Homo sapiens: one gene and its partner. The protein of the gene in region 2 interacts with the protein of the main gene of each other region in a biochemical or structural test. Each region holds a gene or a part of one and is shown on either strand. Other genes may lie near its edges.

Evidence for each region.
Region 1: the proteins of CX3CL1 (region 2) and CX3CR1 are reported together in a solved structure, tested with the Homo sapiens proteins (one study listed by BioGRID).

The regions. Positions count from the first base shown.
Region 1 is NC_000003.12:39,270,004-39,277,301, forward strand, and holds part of CX3CR1 (CX3C chemokine receptor 1), read right to left. Parts: intron 1-7,298. UniProt on the Homo sapiens protein: Receptor for the C-X3-C chemokine fractalkine (CX3CL1) present on many early leukocyte cells; CX3CR1-CX3CL1 signaling exerts distinct functions in different tissue compartments, such as immune response, inflammation, cell adhesion and chemotaxis.
Region 2 is NC_000016.10:57,382,225-57,385,577, reverse strand, and holds the end of CX3CL1 (fractalkine isoform 1 precursor), read right to left. Parts: coding exon 2,546-3,353; 3' UTR 534-2,545; downstream 1-533. UniProt on the Homo sapiens protein: Chemokine that acts as a ligand for both CX3CR1 and integrins ITGAV:ITGB3 and ITGA4:ITGB1. The CX3CR1-CX3CL1 signaling exerts distinct functions in different tissue compartments, such as immune response, inflammation, cell adhesion and chemotaxis.

The DNA of each region.
Region 1 (7,298 bases), on a different chromosome or scaffold from region 2:
GGCACAGCTGGGTGAAGCACCTGGCCCATCCCACAGCTAGAAGCAGGGGGAGCAGGACTGAGGCCAAGGCCTGTGCTGTTCCCACTCTCCCTTGAAGATGGAGGAGACTCGGGCCCTGGGCTTAGGGGCCAAATCCTGGCAGGGGAGAAGAGTCAAGGACTCGATGACTATCAAACAGTTGAGTCCCAAGTCCAGTGGTAAAAAGGCATCAAAACAACAGCCTTAGCTTCCTCCTCTAAAAAAATAACCTCTTAGGTTTGTTGAGAGCATAAGAATTAAATTACTTTAAATTGCTTATTGGGATTTATCGTAGACACACACATGCTCAAGCAAGTGTGTACACTGTCACTGCAACAAGCTTCAAATATAAATGAAGGGAAACAACCCCAATGTCCATCACTAGGGACAGATCAAAGCACGATAAGTCCAATTAATGGAATACCAAGCAGCTGCTTAAAAACCAAACAGTTTCTAGCTCTTGGAAACTTGGGAAAAACAACAAAAACAGGCAGATCTGTATATTCTGTCATGCAACAATCTCTAAGATATACTGGTAAGTGAAAAAAGCTAGGTGAGGTACCATGTACATAGTATGCTGTCATTTGTGGAAAAGAATGATGTGTGCGTATTTTGTATAAAGTTTAAATATCTCTTAAGGAATACACTGGTGGTGGTAATTATCCCTGGAGAGGGATTCTGAAGGATTGAGGATATGGGAAAGGAGACAGTTTTTATGGTAAACTTTTGGAAATGTTTTTTACCATGTACACATACTACGTATTTTGGAAAATAGTTTAATTAATTCGTTTGGAATTTTAAAATAAAAATCAACAAAAATATGAGTTATATGAAAAACTAAAAAATGAGTAACTTAGTACAATAACAAGCATGCTGCACATAATAAGTGGTAGCCAACATATAAAAGGATCATCTCTATTTTTATGGGCAAATAGATGAATTCAGAGAGGGTGAATAACTTGTTCGAGGTGATGCAGTGTGTGTGCAATAGGGCTGCAGTGAGGGCCCAGATGTGTTCGGCCTCAGCACTTTTTTTTAACTTCACATTACAGCCCTTCCCCATTCCTTTTTCCCAAGACTAGGAGTTCCTAAGAGAAGACCCACGTCCTCTTCAGCTCTGCAGGCCAATGTTCAACAGAAGGCCTGGTACACAGCGAATGCCATATGAATATTTGCAGAAGGATAAATATTATATCCTAGACCTTTGTTCCAAAGAGTTTCATCTAGTAGTGATGACAGCACCCTATCAGTCACCCTGATCCCAGGGGTGCTCATGAGCACACAGGTGTCCTTTCTGATCATAGGCTAGGAAGCCTTGAACTCTGAGAAGTTAGTAGGTGCCTGATGTGTTAAATGAATTAATAAATAAGTGAATGAAAGACTTCAAGGAGCAAGAAAAGAGATTCGTCAGCTCTATAATATGGAGCCCCAGGAGATGAGAAGAGGCTCACCAGCTCTCCACAGTCAGAAGACAACTTGGCAAACACAACCTCTCATTTCAACCATACCTCTCACATGTGGCTTTTGAACATATGTGGTCATGAAATAGATATCAGCGTGGGTAATTGCAGCTCTGTCTTCTGTGCAAATCTCAAGAAACAGCAGGAGTCATTGGGCAACATAGGGTTTTGCCTGGTTCTGAAGAGACTTGTATTCTGTGTGCTGGAGCTAGTTCAAACCGCCCTTGGTAGCCAAATGCCCCAGAGCATGTGAAGGCACCATTTACATAAAAAATCTGACATCGCTGAAGCTGTGTCCTTCGCAGAAGTATTCCAGTGAACTTGATAGCTTTAGCAAGGCGCTTTTTAAGGAAGACTGAGCCTGAGCTGAGTGTACCTCCTATTTGTGGATCCTCCAAGATGTTCAAGGTTTGGGAGCTGAGCCTAAGATAGGGCCTCCTGGCAGCAGATGCGAGTGTGGCCGTGCCTTGGGGGTGGCCCTCAGGGTGGTCAAAGGCCTGCCAGAGGTCTAATTGGTTTTCATCTTAGACTGGACCATGGCTTTCCTTTGTCCCTGAGGGACACTAGAAACCAAGTGGAAGAATCAAATGAGAAGACTTTGCAGTGTCTACCCAGCTGGGTTTCATATCCACAAGGGTTGTAAGACGCATGCATTCTGGGATGTTGCACTAATAAAGGCATCATCAACTAAGGCTGCACTTTACAACTTAGTGCAGCAGCCAGTAAGAATTTAAACCTTCTCTGGGCCATCCTCAGGCCTCCTTACCCACTATTCAGTTAAGCCAAGGTTTTACTAAATGGCCTTGAGCTGGGAGAGTTTCGGTGAACCTAGACAGAGCTTTGAGTGTACACATGTTTCACACCCAAGTAGAAATTTGTAAAATTCCCCACTCACATCCGTGGCTGATCCTGGTCTACTTCCTCTGGCCTACTTCCTTTTCTCATGCCTGCTCATTTATTTTTTAACTTTTTAGGGGAGGGACACTCATCATTACCCATTGTTTCCAATCAGCTTCCCTTTTCTATACTTCCCTTCTTCTTTAGGTGGCCAGAATCCATTTCTTCTTCAATCTGACATTCTTTTATGTTGCTTTCTCCCTCTCTTTTGGCTTCACATCCAGCTTACTGTTTTCTAAATCCAGTGTATCTTCTGGTAGTTTTTACCCTCCTGGTCTCTGTTTATGGCTTTTTAGTAAAAGTGAAGACTGGGTTTGAGGTTCAGTCTGGTGCCAAGAAAATTGTGAGGCTTAATTTTTTTCTTTGTACCAAATGAGAGTAGAGAATTGCTTGAGGAGCCCCAACCCAAACTTTCCTTATGAGGATGCCATTGTGCTGTTGACATTGTGGAATCTGAAGTCACCCTCAGAAAGCCCCAGTTTAGAAAGGGAGGAGGCTGCCATTCCCGGATGCCTGCTAAGTGTCATGCTCCACACACAAGATCCCACCACATTCTCTTCACAACCCCACTGGAGAAATGATGATCCCCATGGTATAAATTAACCAGCAGAGGCCCAGAGATTTGGTTAACTTGTTCAAGGAAGCAAAAGAGCCAGGATCTCAACCCCAGATGCCTCTTTCCACAAAGCCTGTGCTCCTTGCACCGCACAATGCTTTTCTCCCTGGAGGGGAAATCTGCAGGATATTGCAGGCCACTTCTCTCGAAGTAGAACTGAAAATAGTAGACCCAGGCCCCTTAAGAGAAACTGGTCCATGATGCATCTCTGAATTCGTTGGGGTTCTCCCCCTGTGGGCTCATAACCCAGCAGGCTGCCCCTCAGGGATTGGTGAGTGGAAAATGGAATGCGGGATATTATTTGCTCCTCTAGCCACCACTAGGTGGTCCACACTGCCAGATCCCCAGGAATCTAGCTCCCAGCAACCATAGTGAGGAAACTGGGGTCATTTTCTCTGGAGAGGAAAAGTCTGAAGGCTGAAGGTTTAGCCTATTTTCTGCCTTCAAATATATGATAGTGCTTTTAAGAGCCACATGTTTCACAGGAGCCCATACATTTCTGAGCATGAATGGCTGAGAGACCCTGGGCAGGTCACTCTGCTCTGCTTCAGTTTCTTGATGTATGAAATTAAAGCATTGGACCAGACCACCTCTAAGAGCCTTGCTAGCTCTGGCATGCTCAATTTTTCAGCAAGAATCAAACAGAAGGAAACTGTTTGTTTGAGACAGGATCTCGCTCTGTTGCCCAGGCTGGAGTGCAGTGGCATGATCATAGCTCACTACAGCCTTGAACTCCTGGGATGTAGCAATCCTCCCACCTCAGTCTCCTAAGTAGCTGGGAGTATAGGTGTGCACCACCATGCCCAGCTATTTTTGGTAGATATGGGGTCTTACTATGTTGACCAGGCTGGTCTTGAACATCTGGCCTCAAGAGATCCTCCTGCCTGGGCCTCTCAAAGTGCCAGGATTACAGGTGTGAGCCATCATGCCTGGCCAAGGAAGCAGTCTTAAAGAGCAACATGAGTCCTAGGTCAGCAAAAGTGTGGTCTATTGTCAACAGAGAGGCTGCCCAGCAGCCTGCCCAGGGAACATGACACTTCTACACTTCTGGGGCACAGCCTGTGAGCATTCAGATGAGGTTCTGTTTGGAGATAGGGAGCTGGATCAGTTGATCAAGTCTTGGCAAATCTTGTTTACCTTGTACTAGATAGAAAGGTTCTCAGTCGGCTGCCATGCCCAGACCCCTGACTGTTTGGGAAGCCAAGTTTTACCAGGTCCTGATGGTTTTCTCATTTATGATGGCAGCTATTTTTATAACACATATCCCTTGGGATTCAGAGAGAGCTAAGGCTGATGGGGAGAGGGGTGCTGAATTCCATGTTAAGGAGCTATAAGGAAACATTTTATACCCCATCCCCTATGCAAGTAAATTCAGTGACTATCTATTCCTATAGCAATGAGCCCATCTAGAACAGCATGGCATTGTCTACCCACCAGTTTTTCACACAGGCCAAATGCACACCCAACCCTTCCCTCCAACCACCACCAAAAAAAAAAAAAAAAAAAAAATAGCAACAGGAGAATCCTATTGGGTTTAGTGAATTGCCCCTTTACAAAACCTGCCATTATTTTGTGTTTGAAGCCCCACCCTTCCCTTTCCTCTTCAAAATACTTTATGGTATTTATTTATTTATGTCAAAGTAAACTGTGAAATTTTGAAGGGAAATACTTCATAATTTTTTTAATAATTAGGAAAGAGATAGACTTGTTAATTGTTTAATTATTAATTAAGTCAATATTTTTGAGCATCTGTACCATATTCTAGTCTAAGTAGAAATTAAAAATAAAAACATTTAATTATTCTTGTTAAAAATAAGGACAGAGATCTCCTCACCTTCTGTTTTTTTCTCAGAGCATTTACTTTAGAAAACTTTTTTTTTTTTTGACATGGAGTTTCACTCTCATCGCCCAGGCTGGAGTGCAATGGTGCCATCTTGGCTCACTGCCACCTCCACCTCCTGGGTTCAAGTGATTCTCCTGCCTCAGCCTCCCAAGTAGCTGGGATTACAGGCGCCCACCACCATGCCCAGCTAATTTTTGTATTTTTAGTAGAGACAAGGTTTCACCATGTTGGCCAGGCTGATCTCAAATTCCTGACTTCAGGTGATCCACCCGCCTCAGCCTCTCAAAGTGCTGGGAATACAGGTGTGAGCCACCGTGCCCACCTAGAAAACTTTTACATACTTTCTCCTCTCTTTGAACATGTGTAAATCCTTTTGAAACTAGATAGGCTTTTTGTCAGCTTTATGAGCTAAGCTAGTCTTTCCCAAGGACCTGGGCGTCATCTCTTTGAAATGTAAACAAACCTAAGGGAGATAGTGCTTCTATCTCTTAGTTTCTGTGGGAAGGTATGAGCCTAACTGAAGAGCCTTGCTCAGTGCTGCAAAATTACCCCTTGTCTTAAAGATAAATTTGATTTTCCTCTGGGTAGAGCCAGTTAGCTAACACAAGTGGTTACCCTAATTACCAGGTAAATTTAGAGTGAACCATGTACGGCAAACGGTGCTGGCAAGACCTCTTACTTGAGGAACAGTTATTGTTTGCCTTGATAACATGTATGTAACAGGTTGTATCTACTTGGCTATACAAAAGGGGGAGATTTCTTTCTGTTCTTGCAACCTCTTAGTAGATGGCCTATAATGCTCTGCATATTTTGGTTTACTGCTTATTCCATAATAAAACTGTTCTTTCTCTACTCCTTTTGTGGAGAGAATCTCTGTGTTGAAAGAAGACTTTGTTAATTATATTTCACCAATACTAGGCACTGTGCTAGATTCTGTAGAGGCAAAAGTGTTTAAGATACAGTTCCTAGAAGTGTTTATTATTGCTCAGTAACAGAATATAAGAAAAGTCATGGGAAGCCCAAGGATTGAACCTCTATATCTGTCTCCTTAAAAACTGGGGGAGGGTGATCAAGAGGATATCACAAAAAAAAAAAAAAAAATCTGCCGTTTGAGCTGATGTTTTAAGGATGGGGAAAGTCTTCCAGGTTGACCAAGATGGAGGTGGCAGTGAATAGTGGGTGGGCTTTGAAGACAAAGGCACAGAGGGTCTGAGCATAGGAAGGTTTCCTGGGGCCAAGGCCAGGCAGAGGGAAATAGGAACAGAAGGCAGTGAAGATGGTGGAGTTGGGAGGAGCCCACATGCTCCCAGAGTGTTCAGGAAAGTCAGTTTAGGCTGAGTGCAGGGCTTCGGGGAAGGATGCAGAGAAAGCCAAGGCTGAAAAGGGAGAAGAGGGACATAGAGAGGGGTCTGAAATTCCACACTAAGTAACTACAAGGAAAAATGATGAAAGACTTTGAAATAGACACACACTGAAGATTACTGGGAGTCCTTTCTGGCATACTCTTTGGGGCTACCTCCCCCTTTTATTGCCTGAGCTAATTTTACAGCACCGTAGGTTATAGCAGATAGCAGTGCAAATGACTCTTGCTCATGGAAATACAAATTTTGTCTAGTGGAGATGCACTGGATTAAGTGCCCTGTAGATATGGACCAATTGTGCCTTTATCTCTAAATTCATCTCAGTATTTCTGGAAGCATCTCACCCATGCTGTTGGTTTGGCTGTAGACTGCTAATTCTCCTTGCTGCGTAGGATTCCACTGTGTGACTAGTCCATGATTTATTGCCATTTCTACTGCTAATGCACACATAGGTGGCTTTCAGTTTGTTGCTAGTTTGGACAATGTTGCCGTGAAAATTTTTGTGCATGTACATCTCCTACAACGTGGATGCATTTTAAAAGTTTAGTCTTGAGCCAAACCAAAAAGTATGAATCCAAATATGAAGATCAAAAATAGGCAAAGCTAAGCTATATTGTTTAGGGATGATATTTAGATTCAGTCAAACTATAGGGAAAAGCAAGGAAGTGATCACCATAGAAGTCAGACTTGTGGTTCTTTGTGGGAGAGGAAGAGGCTGTGGTCAGGAAGGGACATGAGAGAGGCTTCTGGGGTTCTCTTTCTCAGCCTGGATGGTAGTAATGTGGGAAATTAAATCTAATACTTTGCTAACCCAGACATTGTTCTTTCAGTGTGTTGTATTTTGCAATAAACAAAATACAACACACTGAAAAGAGACTTTCCATTTTCTCCTTAAGCACACTTTAAGGGGAAAACAAAGGTGGTCTAGGAAGATGTTTAAAGACATATGATACAGCTTTTCTTCCTTACTCACAAGCTAAAAAGCTGCACTTTGGCCAAACAAGATGAGGGGGTCGAAGCATCAGCTGTGGCCAGCGTGCCGTGAGAATCCCACCTGTGAAGCAGCCAGCAGATTCTGAGCCCCTCAAGAGGGCAGGTGGGAT
Region 2 (3,353 bases):
TCCCAGAACACTGAAGAGCTTAGGGGCCACCACGAGGCTCACACTTGGGGCACATCTATGAACTCCCAAGTCCCTTAAGAAGTAATCCCTCTTTGATCTTCATCTGAACCAGGAAGGCCACAAAGAGGAAACTATGGGCCAGTTTCCTCCCATGGGGCACCAGTTCACTGAGAGTGGTCCTAGGGCCCCTGGGATGGTGGTTCGGCAGGCATGGGGTAGGGCTTCATGAGGGATTCTGAGTCCTGCCAGACTAGGAGAGGCCTCACATTTATAAGACCCAGAGAGGTGAGGGCCCTGGCCCAACATCACACAGCCGGGCAGAACAGAGCTGGGCTGAGGGCTCGGCACTCCTCACTCTAATCCCTGGTGCTTCTTCTCTTGCTGACTGTAAAAATGTCTGCTTTTCTGCCCCAGGTGAACTGGAGATAGGGGTCTCCGGGGCTGAAAGGGGTCTTGCCCCCAGCCCTGCCCCACTCCTTCCCCTCCGAAGCCCTGATTGCTGCACTTGTCCCCAGAGAAATCACCCATATTGATTCACAAGACTTTTAAATTTTATTAGTAAAATACAAAATGGCACAGACGTTGGTGATGAGGGTTGGAAAAGTCTTTCCAAAGTCTTCCTACTCTTTCCAAAGTCTTCCTAGATCATCCTTGTCCATGTCCTGCTTGGAGAAACTAACAAAGTCCATGGAAGGGGGACCAACTGGCCCCAGCGGCTTCCTCACAAAGGAGGCAGGGCCCCATCACAGGGTGTCCCACCCCTGGAAGGCTCTCCCAGCCTGGAAGAGCCAGAACAAAGTGCATTGGGCCCACTCCCACCCTCTCTGAGCTGCCAGAGTGACCCCACCTGAGCCAGGCCCTGAGCTTCCTGAATATGCTGCGCCACACCCAGCAGGGGAGTGCAGAGGCCAGGTGGGCAGGGCAGCACAGCGTCTTGCTCTCTATGGACCAGAGCTGGGTTTCCTTCCTCCAAGCACCCATCTGTGAAGGAGTGTTCCTAGCACCTGGGTAGAACCCAGCCCATAAGAGGCCCCTCAGGTAGACGGCAAGGGTCGGGGACAATCCAAGGGAGAGGTGAGCTGCCACCAGGGACCCTGAGGGGCCAGGCCAGCCGGTGCAGCCCCATCCAGGCATGCTCGAGCCTTCAGCAGCCAAAAAAGGGAACCCCTGACTTTATGCCTACAACTTCCCCTTTCCCATGTCCCAGCCCCCTTCCCGGGTAGCGTCCCTTTCAGAAACAAACAGGGGACTCATGGAAAACATCATGGAAATCCCTGGTCCTGTCTGCGGTGGGGACAAAGGTGAAGGAGAAGGTCTTGGAGGGCAGAGAACAGTGTTTTCAAGGAGTGAGAGAGGTGGGAAGGGAGCCCAGCCTCAGGAAAGAATCTGGCGTGTGTGGGGTGGGACCACAAGGGTCTTGTGGCCTGGCTGCCTGCAGGAGTCTCTGAAGAAGCATCAGGAATGTGGCTGCTCCTGGAGCCTTTCCTGGGCTTCTTGGACATGTGTCTGGAGCCCTCCCTCCCTCTTAGCGGGTGATGGGAGGCAGAGCCCGGGCTGTCTCAGTGACTAAGCCTGGGCGGGGCCTTCAGGGATGGTCTCTGCTCTGCCCATTTCCATTTGGGGGCCCACAGGGCAGGGTCTGTGCTATCAACTCACTCCCTTGCAGGCCCTCTGGGCCTCAGGGTCCAAAGACAAGTTAGTCCATTGGCAGGGACTGTCTAAGGTGCTCTGCTGGTAAGGACTGTGAGGCTGCATCCAGGGGCTGGAGAGAAGGGCCTCAGGTCAATGAGTGTTGTCAGGGGGACAGGTATTCCTTACCTCCCTCTTTCCTTTCACAGATGGGAGTATGTTGGTGGCTTGATGGTGGAACTAGGATCAGAACCCAGCCTTCAGACTCAGCACAGTGTAGACCAAAGAGGAAAGTCACCAGATACCCTTATCTCCCCTTCCCACAATGCCTAACCAAGGGCAGAGCCTCACTGGAAGCAGTGCCAGGAAACACCACACTAGCCTCATGCAAGAAAAGACATGTCACCAGTGGGGGCGTGGGCTCTGTACAGAGGATGGGGCTGGGGGAGATAGCACCGCAGGTGGCCGGGGTGACTGGCAACTGCAGCAGGACCAAGAGACACAATCAGGTTGCAGGGAGTGGGCAGAGGGCCTGGCCTGATGCTCATGTGTGAGATGGGAGGACTGTAGTACTCACAGGGCAGCATGGGTCAGAAGGGGCTGGGCATTTAATAAATAATTGTTCATTGGGGCTGGGATGGCGTCAAAGGGAACCTCTAACCAGCCAGCAGCAGAGGAGAGTTTTGGGGCTGGGGTGAGTTGGGAGGCCACCCCCTCTGTCCCTGGCAGGTGGAGAATGGTCAAGGCTGGCCTCCTGGGGAATGCCTGGGAGCTTGGAGCTTGTGCACCTGGAGGATCCCACCTCCCCCCTCCAATCATCCCAGCTCAGGCCAGGCCCTTGGGTGGGGGTGGGTATGAGGATGAGGGATCCCAGGCAGCTGTCTGAATCAAACAACTAGACACAGGCCAGAGGAGTTCACACGGGCACCAGGACATATGAATTACTACCACAGCTCCGGGGGATGTAGCGAAGGCCCTCCGCCATCTCTCCTGCCATCTTTCGAGGGCAGCCCTGGAGGCTCTGGTAGGTGAACATGGCCACCCCCAGGCAGAAGAGGAGGCCAAGGAAGGCCAGCAGCCCCACCGCCTGCCTCCGGGTGGCAGCCTGGGCGTCAGGGACAGGAGTGATAAGGACGCCCAGCCTCTGGGGGTCCATGGTGGCATGGATGGGTTCCTCAGCCTTAGGGGTCCAGCTGCCTGAAGCCACTGGCTCCCTGCTGGGGGTCCCTTCTGAGGAGACAGGGACCACAGAGACGTGGGCCATGCTGCCAGGCCCCCAGTCCTGGAAGGCATCCGTGTGCGCTGGCACGGGACCCATCTCCTCCCGCTCCAGAGAGTTCTCTGGCCTGGGGCTCTGTCCCTGACCCCACACACGCTGGCCTTCAGACGGAGCATTCTCCTCTGGGGCTGGGGAGGACGCAGTGGAGGCCTGGGTGGAGGGGTCCTGGGTGGACGGGGCCTCAGAGGTCTTTGCCTCAGCCCAGAGGCTGGGCCCAGGTTGGTGGGGAGCAGAACTCTGCCACGTGGCGGCAGTGGAGACGGGAGGCACTCGGAAAAGCTCCGTGCCCACAGGCCCTCCATCCTGAGCCTTTGGCGTCGGGGGGAGCCTGGTCCCTGAGGAACCAGTCACGCCCGTCGGCAGCTCTGGGGAGGTCCCCAGGGCCCTCTGTGCTTCCTGGGAAGAAGGAGTCGGCTCCAGGCTACTGCTTTCGCCTGTGGCTTCG